Linked DNA regions of Homo sapiens: region 1 is linked to region 2. A link means that fine-mapping ties the variant in region 2 to the expression of a gene that starts in the linked region. Tissue or cell type: whole blood. Region 2 holds a variant in brackets; the other region holds the start of a gene. All regions are shown on one strand. Distances are from middle to middle.

Region 1 (2,643 bases), 58 kb after region 2:
GCACATTGTAGGTGCTTTAAAAATAACTCTTAAATATTGACTGAGTAAAAGCGTCTATCTCTAAGATGGTCAATCCAATCCCCCTAAGCACTGTTGTGGAGATGAGTGAAGACTAACTAGGAGTCTTGCTCTGTCGCCCAGGCTGGAGTGCAGTGCCATGATCACGGCTCACTACAACCTCTGCCTCCCAGGTTCAAGCGATTCTCCTGCCTCAGCCTCCCGAGTAGCTGAGACTACAGGTGCGTGCCACCACGCCTGTCTAATTTTTGTAGTTTTAGTGGAGACGGGGTTTCACCATGTTGGCCAGGCTAGTCTTGAACTCCTGACCTTGTGATCCGCCCACCTCGGCCTCCCAAAGTGTTGGGATTACAGGCGTGAGCCAACAGAGCTTTTAAAAACAAATACACGTGAGAGGCCGGGTGCATGGTGGCTCACGCCTGTAATTCCAGCACTTTGGGAAGCTGAAGCAGCAGGATCCCTTGAAGCCAGGAGTTCAAGACCAGTTTGGACAACATAATGAGATCCCATCTCTATGAAAAAAATTTTAAAAAATTAGCCAGATGTGGTGGTGATTGCCTGTAGTCCCAGCCACTTGGAGACTGAGGAGAGAGAAGCTGTTGAGTCCAGGAGTCTGAGGCTGCAGTGAGCTAGGATGGTGACAATGCACTCCAGCCTGGGCAACACAGTGAGCCCCTGTTTGGAAAATAATAATAATAATTAATAACATATGTGAAAGAGAGTTCACAATTAGTCCAATATCTTTAGAAAGATTCAAAAACACCTAAATGCGAAAAATGCCTTTATTCATTTGTCAGCTGGATTACAGAAAGTAGGAAGAAAAGAGCCTGTGCCTCTGTAGGAAAGTAACAACGACTTAACTTCTGGAAATGACTTCGCAGCTTAGAGCCCAGCAGTGCCTATTTTGGATTAAACTGTGTATTAATTAAGCTCAAACGATTTCAACATTCATCACCTTGCATTGCACTTCACAGAAAGCAAAACCAAAACAATCCTGGAGTTTTGAGTGAGGAAAACAGACGCCCCGCACTCGCACACGCGCGCACTCGCAGCCTGTCTGAAGTGCAGAGGTTCAGGCGGCCAAGGGACCCGCGCCGGTTTCCGCGGGCGACCTGCAAATCCTGCCCGGGGCCCGGCAGGCGCTGCGTCCCGGCGCGTTGGCAGTTGGCGACCCCCCTCGAATCCCCCCTCTGCTGCGGGCTCCCCGTGGCCTTTGGAGGCTCGGTGAGTCGGCTCCAAATGTTTTCCATATTTGTTCAGCCTCCATAATTCGAATACCAGGGCAGGCCGAGCCAGCCGTGCGCCGCGCTCCAGGGCCCAGGGCGCCGCACACGCACCCACCCACCCACCCAGCCTCGCAGCGCCATGGGCAAGAACAAGCAGCCACGCGGCCAGCAGAGGCAGGGGGGCCCGCCGGCCGCGGACGCCGCTGGGCCCGACGACATGGAGCCGAAGAAGGGCACGGGGGCCCCCAAGGAGTGCGGGGAGGAGGAGCCCCGGACCTGCTGCGGCTGCCGGTTCCCGCTGCTGCTCGCCCTGCTGCAGCTGGCCCTGGGCATCGCCGTGACCGTGGTGGGCTTCCTCATGGCGAGCATCAGCTCCTCCCTGCTAGTCAGGGACACTCCATTTTGGGCTGGGATCATTGTAAGCATCAAGTCTGTTTTGCCTAAGCGCGTTTGCCAAACAGGAATGCGAAGTCGCATGGTCGAGTTGAGACTAACCCAGCTGCATGTGCCCTTCCCCGGGTTCACTCTTCTAACTCGCGCTCTGCTCGGTGACTGATGCGTGGGGCACTGGGTTTTCCCGGGCGGGGCAGGGCTGGACGCGATAGGGCTCCTGCCCCTCTCCTGCTCGCGGCTCCCAGCGCCTCCACGGGGCCTGACTCTGACGCTCTGGAGCTGGGGAGTTCATTTCAAAAGCTGCTTATTTTGGTCAGACTGAACAGCCTCAATAACAACAGCGGATTCATTCGGGCTTTTTCCTTATCCTGTTACCCAGACCCCACCCCTGTCCTTAAACAAGTGGCAAAAAGTGAATTAAGTTCATCTAGTGAAAGCAGGAGAGGAGAAAGCCTGTACTTGGAGTTGCCACATTGAGTAGCATTCATTTTATGTTTTAAACTGAGGCTCCATTAGTAAGTTTCCTGAAATGATGGGCTAAGGCAGGAAATGCGAATACAGCAAGCACAGCCTTAATCCACTGGAGTCTAAAGTGGGATAAACCCAGGGCGCTGGCCATGGCAGAAGTATATTTGGGACTCCACCGATGGATGTACTGTTCTAAGTTGAACAGTACTCAGCTGTTGTGAGTGTTGAAACATGTAGCATACTTGGCTTGATTAAATGAATTCTTTAATGTAAAACGGGTGCCACTTACTGAATACCTACTGTGTGCTCGCCCTGCTAGAGGCCTGACACATATTATTTCTAATCCCCACATCGTCCTGATGGGATCGTTTTAATCATTCTCACTTCTCAAATGAGGGAACCCAGGCCAGACTCACCCAGGGTCATGAGTGGGTAAAGCATTCAGCCATGCTGATTCCTCTTTATGCTAGACTATATCTGCGTTTTCCTCATTGAACCACACTGCCACCACATTTGGTTTGTAACTTTAATATTATGT
Region 2 (2,856 bases):
TGATTTTTCTGGTCAAGGGCTTCTTGCAAAATCAAACTACGTTTGCCAAATATAGCCCCGGTGACCACAAGCCATCAGCAGGCCTGGGTCTGAGTTCACACCTGCTCAACATTCCTGCATTGCCAGTGGTGATCCAGCTGAGATACAATTCTGAGTCAATTTTGTCATTGGATAATGGCACTACTGATTTTTCCTAGGCTTTTTATTCTGTTTTAGAAATTCTGCTTCAGACATACCAAAGGTAATGAAATAGACATATCTCATATTTCTGTCCTTGTTTCATATTACAGTCCACCCTCCATATCTGTGGGCTCCCATCCATGGATTCAACCAACCTTAGGATATAAATATTTGAAAATAAATTGTGTCTGTACTGAACATGTACAGACATTTTCCCCTTGTCATTATTCTCTAAACAATACAGTTTATTTATATAGCACTTACATTGTATTAGGTGTCATAAGTAATCTAGAGATGTTTTAAAGTGTATGGGATGACGTGTGTAGGCTATGTGTAAAAGACTATGCCATTTTATATCAGGGGACTTGAGCACCCAAGGATTTTGGTATCCACCGGAGGTCCTGGTACCAATACCCTGCAGATACCAAGGGATAAGTGTGTTTCATGTTGCTGTGTATGGTGGCAGAGTTGGTATGGACTTAGGCTTTAAGATCAAGAGGACCTGAGTTTAAATGCTGTTTTCCCCTGAGTAGCTGTGTGACCTTGGACAAATTATGAATGAGTCGGTTATCTCAAATGTAACTACAGAGAAATAGCAGTACCTCCCTCTGTTTATTGCGTGTCCATGACAATGCGCAGAGAACACCCCCATCCTAGTAGGTGAGCAATAAATGATAGCTATTATTTTTCCCATTTGAGCTGCTTGGTTAAAATTATGAGTGTCATAGAAAATATGGGTGTATGAAAATAATTGATGAATTGAGTAACATTTTAAGTTCAAGAGGTAAACCTATTGCTTTCCATTACTCTTTCCTCTAGTAATGGGTGAATAACAATAAAACAGAAGGCCAGACCTGTCAACGTGATTTTCCATTAATGAGATATAGTTAAGAGTCCATGGTACTTCGTGTGCTACTTGGAAATAGGCAGTACTGGTCACAACCTTATCCTTTTAAATCATGCTATTTAGACAGCTCCTCTGAGAGCTGTCACATAGTTCCACATTTATGTGCAAATTGGGGGAAATCCTGTTAGTCCATGCTTTGTCGTAAGTTAAAGCCTTGGTCAGGTCTTAAATGAATGACATGGGTGAATTAAGTTTCAAACTTTGTTAGCTGGCCATGGGAGGCATCTTGACTTATTTCTTCTTTATTTCAGCCATTCTACTAATAAAAGCAAGACTTTTATGGCAGTTACTCTGTGCCATGCTCTCTTTTACTGTTTTGCAAGTCTTAACTCATTTAATTGCT[C/G]AACAACCCTTTGATATAGATAGTGTGATAATGCCATTCTGAAAAGGAAAAAACTGCGGCACAGGTTAAGTAATTTGTCCATGTCACACAAATAGTAAATGGCAGAGCCAGGATTTGAAGAAAACACTGCGGCTGCAGAGTCATTGCCCATAATCTTGACTGCCTGTGTGCACAATGGCCTCCCAAAAACCCAGACAAAAATTCAGCATTTCTATTTACCTCCATGATTTTTGTTTAGAGAAGCGAGGCTTCATTATGCCAGAAAGAGCATGGCTTTGGGGTCTGAAACTGTGAGCATAAGGTTAAGCTTTACGAATACCTGTTTGCCTAGTTGGGAGAGGCAAAGTTTGGAACTTCCCTAAACCTCAGTGTCCGCACTTATAGAATGAGGATCTTATATGCCTGTTGTGAGGTGACTAGTATTTCTGACACATAGAAGATGTCCAATAAATATGTCACTACCTTGAATATATATATACACATATACATATATATGTGTGTGTGTGTGTATGTATATATATATATATATATATTTTTTTTTTTTTTTTTTTTTTTTTTGAGATGGAGTCTTGCTCTGTTGCCTAGGCTGGAGTACAGTGGTGCAATCTTGGCTCATTGCAACTGCCACCTCCTCTTTTCAAGCGATTCTCCTACCTCAGCCTCCCGAGTAGCTGGGATTACAGGGGCCCCACCACCACGCCCGGCTAATTTTTTTGTATTTTAGTAGAGACGGGTTTCACCCTGTTGGCCAGGCTGGTCTCGAACTCCTGTCCTCAAGTGACCTACCCACCTCAGCCTCCCAAAGTGCTGGGATTATAGGCATGAGTCACCGCGTCTGGCCTACTATGTTGAATATTAACAGTTGTCCCTCAGTATCCACAGGGGACTGGTTCCAGGACCTCCCCCGACCCCATGATACTAAAATCTGTGGATGTTCAAGTCCCATGTAAATAAAGCATAGCATTTGCTTATAACCTATGCACATCCTCCCGTATATTTGAAATCATCTCTAGATTACTTATAATACCTAATATGACATAAACACTATATAAACACTGAATTTTTAAATTTGTATTGTTATTTATTTATTTCGTTTCACATATTTTTGATCCACGATTGGTTGAATCTGTGGATGTAGAACCTGTGGATACAGAGGGCCAACTGTATTTAAAGATATCCAAATATGCAATCATTTTGGTGGTTTATTTTCTCCTGAAAAACAAATTTTTGATTTTGTTAAACTTTTCACCTTTCCAAAATAGGGTAAAATTTGATCACTGAGTTAACAATAATAGAGTATCTTCTATGTGCAAGGCATTTTCTAGATAGGGGCTATCCAACAGAACTTTTTGCAGTGAAAGAAATATTCTATAATCTGGCCTGTCCAATGTGGTAGTGCTAGCCGCATGTGGTTATTGAGCAGTTA

Evidence for each region. PIP is the estimated chance that this variant, and not a neighbour inherited with it, causes the effect.
Region 1: SSPN starts here. The variant in region 2 is fine-mapped to the expression of SSPN in whole blood (INTERVAL, PIP 0.96).

What each region holds. Positions count from the first base shown.
Region 1 is chr12:26,194,290-26,196,932 of GRCh38, forward strand. It overlaps SSPN (sarcospan), which reads left to right and starts at 1,284. Exons shown (of 3, transcript NM_005086.5): 1 at 1,284-1,662. The coding sequence starts at 1,384.
Region 2 is chr12:26,135,695-26,138,550 of GRCh38, forward strand. It overlaps a transcript of SSPN not described here. Among named protein-coding and RNA genes, the nearest start is that of BHLHE41, 12 kb to the left of the region's middle. The variant C/G (reference allele first, on the strand shown) is at 1,431.